Homo sapiens: one gene and its partner. The protein of the gene in region 1 purifies or fractionates together with the protein of each later gene. This does not show direct contact. Each region holds a gene or a part of one and is shown in the gene's direction. Other genes may lie near its edges. The genes, in order: TMEM178A and GSTCD.

Evidence for each region.
Region 2: the proteins of TMEM178A (region 1) and GSTCD purify together in Homo sapiens (affinity purification with mass spectrometry; one large-scale study listed by BioGRID and IntAct). This does not show direct contact.

The regions. Positions count from the first base shown.
Region 1 is NC_000002.12:39,664,623-39,669,012, forward strand, and holds the start of TMEM178A (transmembrane protein 178A isoform 1 precursor), read left to right. Parts: upstream 1-1,294; 5' UTR 1,295-1,352; coding exon 1,353-1,752; exon of another isoform or gene 1,753-4,390. UniProt on the Homo sapiens protein: Acts as a negative regulator of osteoclast differentiation in basal and inflammatory conditions by regulating TNFSF11-induced Ca (2+) fluxes, thereby controlling the induction of NFATC1.
Region 2 is NC_000004.12:105,715,254-105,719,065, forward strand, and holds part of GSTCD (glutathione S-transferase C-terminal domain-containing protein), read left to right. Parts: intron 1-2,339; 5' UTR 2,340-2,360; coding exon 2,361-2,786; intron 2,787-3,806; coding exon 3,807-3,812.

The DNA.
Region 1 (4,390 bases):
ATACCGCACAAGTGATTAACTCTTAGCACCCCGGGTCCTAGCGTTTCCTCATTTTAGAAAATGTGAATCTGCCTGCCATTCTTGGAAGTAACCTCTGTGACTGGAAGATGGAAGAACTGCCCCAGGCTCAGGTGTTGACTTTGGTGTGTAGCATTGCTTTGCTGTTGACCCCCACCCCCCAGCCCAAGAAGGAAACCTGCACAGGAGAAAATCATTACTTTGATTTATTACTGGGGGCTTGCTGTATGCAAAGGCAATAATCACCTCATGGAGCAGGTGCCACTGCCAGGGTTCATTGATTCCAGGCTCTTCTAGAAATTCCAGGAGGCCAGTCAGTCTGGCGGGAGATGGACGTAGTCAACGAAAAAAGAAGTCCATCTCATAGCAGGTTGAAATGAAGTGGGAGAAAAATCTCTGGTCATCGTTCTATCGCTCCACTGACACTCGGTGTCTTTTTCTTTCAGAAGAGGGGCTTGAGCAGAGAGAATGCTTAGAGGCTAAGCGATGGGCAAGTGAGAGGGAAAGAGCCGCGACAGATAGAGCTGGCTGCCTAGGGGTCTCAGAGGCTTCATCCTGCAGGCGGCAGGCGGCAGGACAAAGGGACCTTCGGACTCCAGATCAAGATTCCAAGGAGTTAAACGCTACCACGCAGCCCGACCTGGATGGGATTTGCTCCTGGGTACAAAACGGGACACTGATCAAAATCAACTTGGACAAGTGACAAGAGTGAGTCTTATGTCGGTGGATGTCTTTTAAGGTCGTTGGAGGGAAGAGGACGGGAGGGGTGTGCCGAGGGGTAGGTGGAGAGAGGCACCGAGTCCAGAGCCGGGATATAAATGCACCAGGAGCCGGGGAGCAGAGGAGCAAATGAGTGGGGGAAAGTGTGAGAGGAAGAGTTGGAGAAAAGTCGGGGGAAAGTAGGGACAGGGTTAAGGGGAGAGAGGAGGATGAGGGCGGCGAGGAGAGATTAAAAGGGGAAGGGGGGTCGCTGGAGAGGAGGGCGGACTGTGGATCGGAGGTAGGGAGAGGGGCGAGAGGAGTGCGCGGGGTGGGGGGCGCCGGGGCGAGGAGAGGGGGCTGGGGAAGAGGAGGGGGGCAAGAAAGCGAGAGCGGCGCGGGGGAGGGCTAGGAGCCCGGGGGCCGGGCCGGGGGCGGGCGGGCGGTGGGAGGCGAGATCAGGCCAGGGGAGAGGGAGCGAGCCGGGCCGGGCTCGCAGGGCGAGGAGGCCGTAGGAGGGAGGTGGGGGGCAGGTGGGGGGAAGAGGGAGGGAGCGGGCGGAGAGCTGGGGCCAAGTGCATTGTGTCTGGCGGCGGCGCGCGAGCCCACCGGCGGCTGCGGCGGGGCGGGAAGCCATGGAGCCGCGGGCGCTCGTCACGGCGCTCAGCCTCGGCCTCAGCCTGTGCTCCCTGGGGCTGCTCGTCACGGCCATCTTCACCGACCACTGGTACGAGACCGACCCCCGGCGCCACAAGGAGAGCTGCGAGCGCAGCCGCGCGGGCGCCGACCCCCCGGACCAGAAGAACCGCCTGATGCCGCTGTCGCACCTGCCGCTGCGGGACTCGCCCCCGCTGGGGCGCCGGCTGCTCCCGGGCGGCCCGGGGCGCGCCGACCCCGAGTCCTGGCGCTCGCTCCTGGGGCTCGGCGGGCTGGACGCCGAGTGCGGCCGGCCCCTCTTCGCCACCTACTCGGGCCTCTGGAGGAAGTGCTACTTCCTGGGCATCGACCGGGACATCGACACCCTCATCCTGAAAGGTGAGCGGCGGGCGCACCCCGCGTCCCCGGCGCCCGCGCGTGGAGCGCAGCCCGCGGCTTCCCAGGGGCGCGCCGGTCCCCGCAGCCCCCTCCCAGCCGCGGCCCCGCGCCTGGGCATTCTTGCATCCTTCCCGCCGCCTCCAGTCTTTATCTCTTCCCTTTCTTTCCCCACTGCCTCCCTTCTTCTCCCTCTCCTTGACTCTCTTCTTTCGTCCACATCCTGCGCGTCCTTTCAAGTCCGTGCCGCACCTCCCGCCTCTGTCTCCTTCTTTCCTGCCTTCGCCTCCCATTCCCCGGTTCTCTCTCTCTCCCCGTCCTTCTCTGCCTTTGTACACCTGCCTGACATGTGTGTCTTTTCTTGACGCTGCTCCCCGTGAGGGGGACTAACCGTCAAAGACTCGACTTTTCTCACCCGGGCTCCTTCCTTCAAGTTGTGCTCCTTTTGGAAATACCGTTTGGAAGAAAAGTGGTGCCGACCTCCGAAGAGAGGGAAGGGGCTTTGCCTGTATTGTGCGGATGCTGGTGTCAGACGGAACTGATGTGGTCATCCCAGCCTGGCAGGGCTGATGGGCAGCGAAGGAGGCCCCGGAACCTTCCTTCATACCCCTGAAGTGCAGGGTGTGTGTGGATTAGACTTCAGAGACCAATCGTTGGCTGGTGGAGGCTGGTGGAGGCTGCCCGAGGCAGATAGGACACCTGCTTTCCAACCTTCCTGAGGACCCCATACCCCCACCCTCCTCGCTGTCCAGGCACTGAGGAGAGAAAATGTCCTCGCCCTTTAAACTAGAGCTTTCCAGATTTGGGCACTCACTCTCTGCTTATCACTCTGTCTTCTGTTCGTGGTACCTTGTCAGGTTGTTTTTGTTGTTTGTTTTGTTTGGCACTGAGTTGCAGAGCATCAATTTGTTCTTCTGAAATCTGTGCAACACCTGTCTTCTGTGAATGCTATCAGATAGTTTGATTTTTTTTTTTTTTTTGGTAATCCCATTCACGTAAAAATATTCAGTGTGACAACTTGTGAAGCTTCCTTTAACTTTCAGAACTTGACTCAATGTATTTTTTTCCCCTTTGAGATTAAAAAAAAAAATCAACATCTCTTCTCTTGGACTCATGATGCCAAAAAAGAAAAAGTCCAAAATCAGTACATTTTAATATTTAGTAGCCATGTAGGAAAACAAACAGACGGATTTGTGTTGAGTTACAGCCTGGAATGGAATGACATAGAAAAGAGGGGGTTAATAATGTGTTGGCCTTCAGAGTCTTGCTAGTTGGCGGATTCTTCATTTCTCAAACATGTCAACTTCCTCCTTCCCATGGCTAACTCAGCTGGGGACTGCCATCCAAAATCTGTCTGCGTGTGGAAGGACTCCAGCACTTTTAGGGGAACCAGATACAGTAAAATCTTTTGGGAAGTGCACCATTTTCTTTTCTCTCCTAACTTGCATCCAAATCTGATTTCTCCTCATGAAGATGCTGCATAATTAATTCTGATAGTAGCATAGTACATGAACAAACTGTAAAAGCTGAATGTGGAGGCTCAGTTATGGAGTGCTCATTTAGGCAAGGCAATTTTGAAAGCTAAGCAGTGTAGTCTGTCTTTGGAAATGACAGAACTGCATTTCCTTACACTTTCTATGCTTAGAGTATTTGATTGCATGTAAATTGGATATAGAGCAATGCCTGAAACAGCAGGGCAGAGTCAAACCTACAGTAGAAGAGGGGACCCCCACAGGATATTGCACAATGCCTCTGCAAATGCCCTGGCTAACTGAGGTGCCAGTTCCAGGGCAGTCCAGGGTCAAATAATAGAGGTGGAAGGACTTTAGAGGTCATTGAAGTTGAACATCTACTGGTTGTTCAAATTCCCTTCTACAATCTTTCTGACAAATGGTTGTCTAGCCCAGTACTTCCGTAAGACGGAACTCATATACTCGTTAAAAGAACTAGATTTTCCCAGTCACGAATGCCTATTTTTAGATGAAAACAATCTCAGCTTTATAATATTGATGGTGTTTAGCTAATCTTTTGTGTAGAACACTGAAGAGTTCTAGGTTGTGAACAGAAGATATGGGCCCCATTGCTGGCTCTGTTGCTAAATTGCAGTGTGTTCTCCAAGTATCAAGACCTTCTTCGCCTTCGGTTTCCTTGTCTGTGGTATTATTAGGAGGGATGACTATTCTTTAGAGAAATTTCTAGTTCACATATCTGTCATTGTTATAATTAATAACAATGTAAATTTAGCTTCTTGCAAAGTTAATGAGCCAACGCTATTAAGCAATGAGGAGTTTGGAGGAAAGAACAGGCATTGGTAGATTATAGGATCATAATTTGTTGTTTGGGAGATGTCCAGAAATGCCTTGTAATGTTGCTACTAACCAACCTTGGGCTAGTTACATAATTCTTCTAGATCTCAGTTTCATCATCTGTGAAATGTATGGGTGACAAGAGCAGCTTTAAAATTCTGAGTCTATGAATAATTTGAGAAAAGAAAATGTCACCAACATTTTCCTGGCTCAAAGATGATTTTGGCACCCATATTAGGCAAACATTATCACCTTTGTTTTGGCATCTGACATTAGTGGCTGTGGTATGAATTTCTTAAATGAGCCATTTATAAAACTAGAAATTAACACTGTAT
Region 2 (3,812 bases), on another chromosome or scaffold:
AAGGTGTTATATTAATAATGAAAATATTTCCAGAGCTCTATTCAGCTTTATAAAAAAACTCTTTGAACTTTGATCTTTAATAAATACCTTTTTGTTTTAAAATTATCTCTCAGTGACAAAAATTTTTAAAAAATAAGCTCAGGGAGAAAATGGCATCTGTAAGTTAAAAAGTTGTTGCTTTTACAGTATATAAAATAATTTTCCCCCAGATAATCTTTTAAGAAGTAACAAATCATGGTATATATCTGTTATATTTTAATAGAAGAAATATAAAATAAAGCAGTAGTGATTATTTGTATTATTAAGAAACTTAGATAATACTTTACTGACTATATTTATTTTTTATAATGGATTACAAGTTCCTTAGTTTTAAAAAATGAAGAACTAAGAAGCTTAAAGTGTTTAGGTCTTGTTTCAGATTTTTTTAAAAAAGGGATTTAAAATATTAAAGAAAATTTAGTATGATGAAGGTTTTCTAAAATTAAGTGTACACTAACATTTTGAATACACTTAAAAGACAAGAGGTGCATGTGTACTTTTTAACAGCTTTTAAAGTAATTTTCCTTCTAATATGTCATGTTTCTGGTACGTATTTCCATGGTGAATACTTTTAAAGAGTGCCATCTAGTGTCAGTTTTGGAATTGTAATTTATGTATTAGAACATTAGGAATTTTTGACCCGGGAAATGTATAAACATAAAAAGACAGGACAATTGATAAAAACCTTAAGGAATATGACTTGAAAATAGCCATGAAGAATCTGACCTCAAGACTGTGTGTGTTTGCACCTTTAACCAGTATGTATATTTATCTCTGCTTTCATTTGTCAAATACTGCTTGCTTATATATATAATAAACCTATAAAGCAGTGAACAAAAAATTTTTACTCATGGAACATTCTAGTTAGAGGAGACAAATAATAACATATAGTATATCACCATAGCAATAAGCGCTAGGAAGAAAAAACATAGATGGAAATAGAAAGGTTTTTTTCAGGGAGCGTGGGGATTGGGGTTTGTGATTTAAATTGAGTAGTCAGGGAGGATCTCAGTAAGAAGTTGCCATTGAATAAATAAATACCTGAAGGAAGTGAGGAAGTGTTCTAGGTACTGGAAACACCAAATGCAAAGGCCCTGATGTGAGAATGTACCTAGTGTTTTAGCAAGGGTCCCCAACCCCTGGGCCCAGGACTAGTATCCATCTGTGGCCTGTTAGGAACCCCACCTCAAAGTGGGAGGTGAGTGGCAGGTGAGCCAGCATTACTGCCTGAATGGCGCCTCCTGTCAGATCAGCAGCGGCATCAGATTCTCATAGGAGCTCCAACCCTCTTAACTGCACGCAGGAGGGATCTAGGTTGCACTCTCCTTATGAGAATCTAATGCCTGATGATCTGAGGTGAAACAGTTTCATCTGGAAACCATCCCCATCCCCCCACCAACCTCCCATGGAAAAACTGTCTTTCATGAAACTGGTCCGTGGTGCCAAGAATGTTGGAGATGGCTGTTTTAGAGGAATAACAATCTACTTTGGCTGGAGCAGTGAGCAATGAAGAAAGTTAATGAGACAAACTCTGAGACATAAAGGAGGATTAGATCAAGGAGATTTTTGTAGGCTGTTGCAGAAACTTTGGCTTTTCTCTAAGGAGGGTGGGAAGACCTTGGAGGGTTTGGTTATGGGGGTGTGAAGGAAAAGAATGGTGTAACCTGAGATGGGAAGACACATAAGGAGCAGGTTTGAGGGGTGGGAGAGAATAAGGAACTGGATTTTGGACAGGTTAACTTTAAGATAGCTATCAGTATCCATGTTATGGGGAAATTTAAATATTTTTATATTATGATTCAGCACTCAGCAGCTATCACTTACTTGAGGAGAATCCACTTCTCCTGAAAGAACGAATATCCCCTCCCTATTATTTTGTAGGGTCGTAAAAAAGAAGCAGTATGGAAGGACCAGCACTGTCAAAACTTCTCAAGGATATTATCCCCAGACAGCTCTCAGTATTTTTGGTTAATTTATTTCCCCTTCTATTTATCTCCTGTTCTCACATATAGTGAGACCCCAAAATACTTGATTGGGAGGGCTCTATTGCAAAGCACTGGGGTTTGCTCATTTTAAAGGAGCTGGGTGTAATATTTCCTCTAATGCTAGTTAATTGCACAGGGTGGAATTTTTTTCTTTTGGAAGTCATTTAGTCAGTCTTCAGAAACAAACCTTATAGCATTATTATCTACTGCAAATTTTTACTGATTTCTAGAACAGGCTTTTGAAACATTCATCTTTTATTTTAGCTTCTAAATGATTATATTCTAAGACCATAATCACTTCAATTTATACTTTAGGTGACCCAATGAAAGAAGAAAATGAAAGCCATAAAGAAAAGTCTTACAGAAGAAGAATACCTGTACCTGGACTTTTCTCACCAAACAGAAGGATGCATCTTTCCTCTTCATACATCTGTAACTTTATTTCTGTTATCTTACTGTGACTGTAAAATCTTTAAAATTTGCTTAGTTGTCACCAAAGAGGTGAGTAGAGATAGTTCACTACTAAGAGATGACCTGATCCAGGATGTTGAAATACAGATTATTTCAAGGCAGGAGCTCCCACCAATAGTCCAAAATTGCTGTTTGCCTGCAGTAGTAGAACGATCAGACAATTTTTGTAGAGCAGGACTTGCTGTTGTATTGAGACACATAATCCAGAAATCCTATGAAGCAGACCCCTTAAAGAAGGAACTTTTGGAACTTCTGGGCTTTAAAAAGACTTGCTTGAAAGCCTGTGCTGAAGTAAGTATAATGTCTTTTTTCTGTTATTTGAAGCTACACAGTGATAACATAATTACCTGACCATTTAATATTTTAACTTCCTATTAGGAATAAAAGTTTATTTATTTTAAAAAACCCCAGTAACCAATGAAATAAAGTAGCCCTTTGATATAGTTTGAATATTTATCCCCTCCAAATTTCATGTTGAAATGTGATCCCCAATGTTGTTGGAGGTGGGACCTGGTAGGAGGTGTTTGGGTCGTGGGGGCAGATGCCTCGTAAATGGCTTGGTGCTCTCACTGGGGTAATGAGTGAGTTCTTGCTCTATTAGTTCATGAGAGATCTAGCTGTTGAAAAGCGCCTGGTACCTCTTCCTTGCTCTCTCTTGCACCCTCTCTCCCCATGTGACATGCCTGCACTCCCTTTGCCTTCTACCATGACTAAAAGCTTCCTGAGGTCCTGATCAGAAGCAGATGCTTCTTATATAGCCTGCAGAACCATGAGCCAAATAAACCTCTTTCCTTTATAAATTACTCAGCCTCACCTATTCCTTTACAGCAATGCAAATGGGCTAATATACCCTTTACGTGTGTCAATATTTCAGTGCAGTATTGAAAAATAAGAATTTAAGTCTTAATTTATAAAGTTTGGAGACATTTTTAGAAAATAACTCTTTTTTCTTTATTTTAGTTATGTTGATTTTTAAATGGAATGTTTACATATAAATAGGAGCTCAAATAGCAATGCTTTGGAAGCCCTGCTTATTGTGGGGGCTAGGAGGAGGGTAGGACAGGGGAGGTATATTGTAAAGGCTTTGGGAAGTAATGATTTATTTAGTAAGGGGAATACAGGAATGCTAAACTTCTTTTGCTTAATGTTTTTACTTCTGAAGCACTGTGATGTGTCTCCTGATACAACATAAAAGCCTAGCCCAGGGATGATTGAGCTCAAAACTTATTTCCCAATAAGACAGTTATTTTTTCTAAAGTTATATTGAAATTAAAAAATCTTTTCATTTCTTGTTTTGTTTTTGTTTTGTAGGTTAGT